Linked DNA regions of Homo sapiens: region 2 is linked to region 1. Evidence: fine-mapped expression QTL. A gene starts in region 1. The other region holds a variant in brackets. All regions are shown on one strand. Distances are from middle to middle.

Region 1 (4,382 bases):
TTGGCTGCCCCGGAGGGTTGATGCCCCCAGAACATGGCGCCGCCGCCCGGGCCCGCCCCTGCCCCCGGGGGCAAGTGGCTGGCTCCCGGGCCCCCCGCACCCCCGCCTGTCCCCGCGCCGCCGCCGCCGCTCCCAGTGCCAGGACCGCCCTTTGGCTCGCCCGCGCCTAAAACCGGGTCGTCCTTTTTGGGGCATAGGCCGAAGGCCGTAGGGAAGCCGTAAGGATGGGGGAAAAGTGGTGGGGGCAGCTTTTGCAGGAGCCCAAAGCCTTTGCTGGGCACCGGGATCACCGGGTAGCTTCGTACGCCGGCGCCGCCACCGGGCCCTCCTGGGCCCGCCGGGCCACTAGCTCCAGTCGCCAGGCCAAGTCCGCGCTGCGGGTGGGGTGGAGGTGGCCCCGGAGGCCCGGCAGCCTCATCTTCGCCACAGCGCAGGCTTTTGTGGGGCGGCGGGCCTGGGGCCATCTCTGCACCGCACCCTGGGCCACCGCCGCCACCGCCGCCAGCACCACCCTTCCCCTGCCCACCCGACCCGCCATTGGCACCGCCTCCGCCGCCTCCTTGTAGGGAGAAGGTCCGCTTGCGCGTGCCGCCATTAAACATGGCCTTGACGTCCTCCCAAGCATGGCTCAGTTCGTCTGTGGCCGACTTGTCACTGAGTTTGAGGTGACGACGCCAGGAGTTGAAGTTGGCGGCATCGGGCTGCGTGTACTTGGCGTCGGGTGTTCGGTGCGAGTGGAAGATGAACTTGTTGGGCGAGAAGTACATGCTGCAGTAGCCGCACTTGATGCACTTGGCACGAGAGCTGTTGTAACGCGCAGGGATGAAGCTACCACGCGAGCCCCACGCGCACTCGTGCACCACATCGAAGGCGAAGTTCTCGGGCAGCTTGGGTGGTTTGTGCTCGCCCAGGAACGACTTGCACAGGCGTTCGGCCTCTCGCTTAGTGATCATGCCGCAGCGGCGCGACGAGATGGGCATGGCCCCGGCCCGACGCAGAATCTCCAGCTGTACCGGCGTGCACTGCACGCACGTGATGCCCAGGGCCACGCGGCGGTTGTGGATCTCATTATAGCTGTAGTTCTTGAGGAGGGTGTTGGAGATCTGCGCCAGGCATAGGCGCTCCTGGCCGTCGATGACCAGCGACACAATGGGCACCCCGTACAGCGACGTCTCGCCCACCTGGTTGGGTTTGAGAGCGCTGGAGCCCGAGTACGGCTGCAGCTCCTGCTTGGAGTTGGGCGAGGAACTGCCCTCGCGCCCCGGCCCCAGCTGAGTGGTGAGAGCCTCCATGCCGCCGCTCCTGCGAAATAGAGAAAGCAGAGAGCAGATGAGCCATTTTCAGCGCCGCCGCCGAGGCTCGGGCCCGCCCAGCAGGGCGCTCCGAGTTGGGCGCGCGGGGGATACTTGGCAGTGGGGAGTCCAAACTCATTCACCCCCTGGACAGGCGTCTTTTGTTACTCAGACCCATGTTGGCGCCGTTAACAACAGCCCCCGGGGCTTGGGGGAGGAGAAGGGGTAAAGGAGACCTCAGGAATGCCCGGGCTGCAAGGAACCCAATCCCGTTTTCGGATTGGGAAGGAAGTGAAACCCAGATACGCAGAGTGACTTGCCCAAGGCCACACAGCAAAGCCATTGCCAAATCCTGGCTTTTTCAGCGCCCAGATCCGTGCGCCTTCGGCAACCCTCGCAGCCGGTGCTGCCGGCCCGGGTCCTGAAGCCCGGACTTCGGGGATCGGCCGCCCCTCTGCTCAGTCGCGCATGCACGCGGGCGGGCGGGGGCAGTGCAAGGAGGGGTGGGGAGGGGGGAGGGGCGGTCACTGCCCATCTCCAGACAGCAGGGGGTAGAGGGGGGTGAAGAGAAGGAGGGGGGTGAGGAGAAGGAGGAGGGAACCGTGTCTGCCAGGGAAGGAGAGAGGCGGAGGCTACCGCTGTTCGCGGTGCTGAACCTGACCCTCTCCAAAGCGCTCGGTGCGCACCCGGACCTAGCGCGGCCCCCACCGCACCCAGCTTGGTGCCCGAGCCGGCTTCAGGGGACAACATTGCCAGTTTCCACAAACCCGAGCTTCTCCTCTCACGGCTGGCGCCCGCGTTCGTTGAGCAGAAAGATTTCGGCTGGATATATAAACCGTTTTCTTTCCAGCTATTAGTGAGACCAGGATCCTGCAGTTCTAACCACATTTTCTGCATTTTTAGCTGTATTCCAGACCAAAGCTGGTTTCCACCGAGGTCAACGTGTGGGACAGAGAGGTTCTCAAGGAACTTTGTTGGGATCCACTTCTTAGCTTCCAGTCGCCCACTCCTTGAGCTTTCCTCCTTCAGATATACGTTTCCCACTCGGGCCAACTGCAGGATTCGGGGCTCTGGGCTTCCTCTTTGAGGGGCATCACCTCTCTGAGTATCCTTCATGCCTCGCTGTCCCGGCTCATATGGGCTAGAAGGAATCTCAGCCATCTTCGTAGCCATTGCAAGGCTCCAGGCACACAAGTTGCTGCTGGTCCTTGCACTTTGCTTTCTGGCTGAGGCAGGGAGGGAGCTGTGCAGGCAGACCTCAGCAGCGGGGGTACTTGGGGACTGATGTTTGGGGCCCTCTAGGTCGCCTGACCCAGCCACATGTCCTCAGACAAGCCAGGCTCCCATCCGGCCCAAGGCTGCAGGCGCTCCTGCGGCCAGGGCAGCCCAACCCTGAGGGCTCCTCCCCTGCAGTCGGCCCTGAATGTAACTCCGTTTTCAGAGGGGCAGCTCCAGACAGGGGATCCCAGTTCAAAAGCCTTCAGCAAGGAGACTGGAATCTTCTGTTTATCTGTCTCTCTCCCTTCTTCTCTATTTGTCTAGGAGACCCTCATTTGTCGATCTTATCTGTCCCTGAGCTGTCTCTGCCGGCTCGTTCCTCTTTCTCTCATCTGTTTTGTACCTTCTTCAAGTATCAAGCTATTTATGTATTATCTGTCTGTTTCATCTTTATCTCCGAGGATCGAACTAAAATAAGTTGACCCTTATTTCGCGTTGAAGTCCTTTATATCATTGTAGGAGGCAAAAACACTGTCCTAACTCCCCGGCTGACAAGCCTCGCGCCCTCCTGGAGGTGGCTGGAGGGCGCGCAGCGCTGGGAAATGACAGCTTCTCGGTTTCTCGAAATCGGCAACTATGCCTGGCCCGCATACAGTGAAGACAGCGCCCGAGCCGAGAGCGTACCCCAGTTGAGGGTCCTGGGTCCCTGCGCGGTTTTCCCTGAGTGAGAGGAGGGGGGTCCGGGCCCGGAGTCAGAAGAAGGGGGTCCCTAGGAAAGGAACGGAATTTCGGGGGCCAAAGCGGAAAGCACAGGCGAAGAGCCATATGCAGCGACAAGGAGCAGCAGCCAGAGCAGCTTGAGGAACCCCCGTCGGCTCCCGGAGCTAGATGGACGAGCTTGGGGAGGGCAGCGAAGCGGGAGACTGGCAGTGGTGGGAGCGAGGCGGTGGTGTCTTTAGGTATAATCATAAAAACAACAGCCACAGGAGCCCAAATCAGAACTAAACGAAAAAAAAGCTGCAGGAGCAGAGCGCGGGGGCGGCGGGCTACCGGACGTGGGTACTCACAGTGCGGCGGCGGCTGGAGCCGGGCGAGCGGTGAGCGGAGGTGCGCGGCGGGAGGAGCGGCGGGCGGGAGTCCGGGATCCGCCGGGCTCTCCGGGTGACGGCGCGGCCCCTCCCCGCGCGCGCGCACAGCCGTGCTCCCTGGTTCTCCGCGCTCCCACCCGCGGCCCCTCCCGCTCTCAGCGGGCACGGGGCGCCGGGACCCCGGGCGCGGAGATGCGAACCCTGAGCCGTTGACCCCGAGGCCGGGGACTGGCCGGAAGAAGAGGCCGAAGCCTGGAGCGCATGGCGCGGCGGCGGGGACGGCGCGGTCACAGCCCGAGTGGCGGGGCAGGCGCGCCTGACAGCTGAGAGCCGGGGCGCCACACCCACCGCCCGCGCAGTCGCTAGCGCCCTCCCCGGGTCCGCCCGCCCGCGGGCCACGCGCGGCGCCCGCCGCCTCCCCGCAGCCCAAGGCCTGCACGCCCCAGGTAAGCGGCCGCACACCTGCGTCCAGCACCCTGCACCTGCGTCCCGCTCTAGCTGGAGAGGCCAGGAGGGAGGAAAGGCCCTGGGGCCATAAAGTTTGTCCCCAAGAACGAAGTGGGGAGGGCCCAGTGCTCCCGGCCAAGGAGCCAGTTTTGGTCTGGGCCAAAACCGGGTGATGGGGCTAAGGGGGACTCAAGAGGAACGGGCGCAGGGAGGAGTACTTCACTTTCCGGCCGCAGGCGAGGGCCAGGGTGGTGGAGCCTAGAGTGGCCCTCGGGAACCAGTAGGGTCACCAGAGACCGGGACAGGGACCTGGGTGCAGGGCAGCGAGGATGGCACC
Region 2 (4,382 bases), 25 kb after region 1:
AGGCTCCGAGCCTGCCGCAGTGTGTGGGTGCTGCCTGAGGCCTGTGGGGCTGGACTTCCAGTCCAGTGCTCATTTAATGACACCTCGCTGTCTGCCCTTAGTTGGGCTTTGAGCTTCTTCTGAAATAGGAATGTACCTATTTGGGGTCCCCATACTTTCATCTCTTTCTATAACTTTCTAGAGAATATAATGCATTTGAATAATTTAATAACTTGCTGGTGTGGCTGCAGGGCCTGGTGCAATGCCTGCATGTGGTAGGCCCTCATGAAAAGGTGACTTCTATATTCTGTATGTATACATCTACTTACTGAGCACTTGCTGTGTACAGGCATTGGCTGAATGCCTTACATCTGACCACAGCTCTCCTGAACCCTCCCGGCACCCCCATTTTATAAAGGAAACTAAAGCTCTAGGAAGCTTGATATTATGTGGCAAGGTCATGGAGAAAGTGGCAGAGTTAGAGTTTAAACCCAGGACACTCTTCTACCATGGAAGACACCACACTGCCTGCCTACTGGTGGTGTCTCTCTGGGGAGATGGCTCCATAAGCTGTGGCTGCTCTAGACATTTGGTGGCTCTCTGGACCACAGGACTGCTCTGCCTCAGGGTGAGCACCAAGCACATCCTCTCCCACCAAGGATGCTGCATGGGATAGGAGGCCAAGGACTCATGAACCTGTTGAAGCAGTAAGCCTGGCCTAGTAAAGACTCCAACAAGCTGCTGTTGGGACAGGGCAGCCCTGTGATCAGGTGACTGCCCTGTAAATGGTGATTTGAGAGGCCGAAGGGACCTCCACATGCCAACCCACTGCCCATCCCTTTGCCTTTCATTGCTGGACCTGTGAGCCTTGCTTGAAGGCTCTATGCATCTCCCTTTAGGATTCCAGCCCGCTTGGCTGTGATAACACTTCTGTCCCTTCTCACACTAATGGAGTGTTAGGACTAGATGGGATCTCACAGTCCAGCGGAGCCATAGGGTGTGAGGTGCTTTGGGGGCTCTGCAGCGGTTTCAAATTCTGTTAAGAAAATTTTTAGCTACAGTTTTAAAAACGGATTTAAAAAAATAACATACACTCAACTATGGTCAAAGGGTTACACTGAATACTGGTGATCTGTTACCTTGTACTGTGGTGTTACTTTTTGCAGCTTTTAGAGTCCGCTTATTAGATCTGTGCATATTATTCAACTTCTTACATGGCAAGCATGGGCTAGGAGGGCTGCTGTGGTGCACTGGTCATTTGAAAAAAGACGTCCACTTAGGACGTACACATGCATGTGTAAAGCTGTGTGAGTGCACCAAAGCCCAGGTACACTGAGCCCCATCACGTACATCGGGGTGGGGGATACAGTGTGGTCCATGGCTCTGAGTTTCTGATGGTGTCAGTTCCCATAAGGTTTGAGTACCATTTGTCTGACCAATATATTTACCATAAACGATTCATATGAACAATTGGTCATTGCTGTCAGTGGCTAACTGTAAAATAAAACATTTCTGCTATTCCTTTGTTAAGCATCTACATTGGTTTGATGGATGCCTAAGTTGGGAAGGCAACTTAGGTGAGTGAGGATTTCCTTGACACTGTGCTGAGACAATATACAGAAATAAGCTGTGTGTAGGTATGAGATTGCCACTGGCCCTTGTGACCCTGGCTCTCAGAATTTTTTGTCCTTTAAGTCTCATGGATGACTTTAAAAAGAAGTGTCTACAATGGATACTAATACATTCATGCTAAAAAAAAACCCCACTTCTACATTAATATTGAAGTCTTGCATTAATTTTACATAATAAAACATGTTCCACTGTTAAAGTTTTAAAGCTACCAATCTAATCCCCGGAGAAAACTTCAGATTAGAGACGTTAAATAATTTATGGGAGGATGCACAGATTTCCACTGTCTGCTGAATTGCTGACAAGTGGCAGGATAGTGGGCAGCCTGATAATATTAATTACATGAGATAATAAATCATAACTATCCCTGGGGCCAACTCTTCCTTCCAGGCTGGGCGTGGCCAGGCTAATCAACAGGAATGGCCAGGGAAGGAGAGGACCTGATAAGTGACTCAGCAAGAGGAAGCCAAAGCATCACAATAACAATCCCCCCCACCGCCCCCCACTCTGCGTGGAGTGACAGCAAGGGCCCCTGGCTAAGAGTCGGTCAGCCCTCCCCTGGCCATCCCACTAGGGCCTCGCCTATAAAAGAGATAATACCAAAGAGTGGAGGGGGCCTCCCTTCTCCTGGCTTCATTCTATATGGAAGTACTGCTGCTGTTGTAACACTCCTGAGCCTTGTCCCCAGGGAGGGAGTGGCAA[C/T]ATTGGGTGGGTGGGCCCACTGGGCAGATCTGTCTGGCCTGCCATCTCATGCTGAGCCTCCAGGCAGGCTCTAAGCCTGCAGGAGGCCTGCAGTTGTTCACCTCTGCGTAGCAAGGCCACTGGGGCCACACTTGTAAATACATCCTCCAATCCAGATTTGTATAGAAGTAAAGCTGATACTTTCTCTCCATCATTTCTGGGTCTCATCTGTCAGCTGGTTTTGAACACAGGGCAGCTGTCTGCAGCTTCCTCACCCACACCAAATACCACCTGCTCTCTCTTCCTCCCGGAGTGGGTTGTAAGGACCAAATGAAGTCACCTGACCCTGGGGTGGTGCTTCACAGATATACTCTGGGCAGGTGAGGGTTATTCCTCCACACAGAGCACAGGTCCTGCACTTGAGGGCACAGGGGTGAGAGGAGGTGCTTGCACCAAAGATGTGGAGTCTTCCTGTCCACATAGCGAGCATACCTGGGCAAATGCCACGAATGCAGAGTTTTCCACACAAGGCATTTGTTCTGAGAACATGCTTTCTTGGCCTCTGATTTATTATTTTTATTATTTTTTTATTTTGAGACGGAGTCTCGCTCTGTCGCCCAGGCTGGAGGGCAGTGGCGCGATCTCGGCTCACTGCAACCTCCGCCTCCCAGGTTCAAGCAATTCTCCTGCCTCAGCCTCCTGAGTAGCTGGGATTACAGGTGTCCGCCACCATGCCCAGCTAATTTTTGTATTTTTAGTAGAGATGGGGTTTCACCGTGTTGGTCAGGCTGGTCTTGAACCCCTGACCTCGTGATGCACCTGCTTTGGCCTCCCAAAGTGCTGGGATTACAGGCGTGAGCCACCGTGCCCGGCTGTCTTGGCCTCTGATTTCTAAAGCTTTTCCATATTTGGGGGTGGGGGTTCCTTGCCAGCCCTTCATTTCCTTTTAAGACCTGGGAAGTGGTATGCAGCTGTGACATGTCATTTCAATCAACCTTCCTGAGTTTATTCTTCATAATTGCTATAGAAATAGATGTTTTTCCCCAAATATTCAATTATTAGCAGCAAATTGCTTACCTCTAGCCATCCTAGACAGTACGCAGGCACCTAAGGGGGTCAAGCAGCTCTCCACTTTTCATCTGAGCAGATCTATGTGTTTCTACACAGAGTAATAGGCCAGAAATGGACCACTGGGAGAAAAAAAATGTTTCCAGAGGTGTCTGTGAGTCATTCTAGGGCCTGTACTTACAGAGCAGCCGCAGGACCAGTGTTGTACGGTGTTGGATGGGGCACAGGATGACTCCAGTGGGCCATGGTGAGGTGGCTAGACACTTGGGGTGCCGACACTCATGAGTTTGTCGGAGGAAGCTGATCCTTGTGAATGGCAGAATTGTGCCACTGGCCTGTTTAAAGGGGGCTGTGGTGGCTGCTCTGGCAGGGGCCTTGGATAGGACTGGGCAGGCTGTACAGTGGGGGATATGCTGGCTGCCTCCGGCAGTTTTGGGCCACGCAGATGCCCAGAGGGATCAGGAGGGAGGATGCCAGAGGAGAATGGACATCTGCTCCAGATGATACTGAGGACTCACCCCTGAAAGGTGGAGTCTGCAGCATGTCCACACTGTGAATATGGGGCCAGTGACAAGTGTCTAGATATTCAAGGTTTGTCTCTGGGGGTGATTGATGGCTGTGTGGTGATGGAGGTTTAAAGACACAATGCTCAGAAGGATGGATTCTCCCTTGTCCTCTGCTTTCCTTACCTCTTGAGTAAGAAAACATTTTAGGCCGGGCATGGTGGCTCATGCCTGTAATCCCAGCACTTTGGGAGGCTGAAGCGGGTGGATCACCTGAGCTCAGGAGTTCGAGACCAGCCTGACCAATACGGTGAAACCCTGTCTCTACTAAAAATACAAAAATTATCCAGGTGTGGTGGCGCATGCCTGTAATCCTAGCTACTCCAGAGGCTGAGGCTGGAGAACTGCTTGAACCCAGGAGGCAGAGGTTGCAGTGAGCCGAGATCACGCCACTGCACTCCAGCCTGGGCCACAGGGTGAGACTCTGTCTCAAAAAAAAAGAACCAATGAAAGATGTGAATT

Alleles and levels. Positions count from the first base shown, and alleles are read on the strand shown. Sizes are in standard deviations (SD) of each study's normalised expression.
For the expression in thyroid of the gene that starts at base 1,729 in region 1, T is the low allele of the variant in region 2 and C is the other (small effect, 0.35 SD a copy in GTEx).

What was found. PIP is the estimated chance that this variant, and not a neighbour inherited with it, causes the effect.
Region 2: its variant is the best candidate, but not a certain one, in a credible set for the expression of SKOR1 in thyroid (GTEx, PIP 0.66).

Annotation. Positions count from the first base shown.
Region 1 is chr15:67,822,856-67,827,237 of GRCh38, reverse strand. It overlaps SKOR1 (SKI family transcriptional corepressor 1), which reads right to left and starts at 1,729. Exons shown (of 9, transcript NM_001365915.1): 1 at 1,529-1,729; 2 at 1-1,302. The coding sequence starts at 1,635. It overlaps LOC124903570, which reads right to left and starts at 3,861. Exons shown (of 4, transcript XM_047433429.1): 1 at 3,799-3,861; 2 at 3,195-3,279; 3 at 1,836-2,599; 4 at 1,654-1,725. The coding sequence starts at 3,861. The coding sequence ends at 1,654. RefSeq lists an enhancer at 1-461.
Region 2 is chr15:67,797,670-67,802,051 of GRCh38, reverse strand. The region is part of intron 21 of MAP2K5 (mitogen-activated protein kinase kinase 5); the gene reads right to left. Among named protein-coding and RNA genes, the nearest start is that of SKOR1, 26 kb to the left of the region's middle. The variant C/T (reference allele first, on the strand shown) is at 2,311.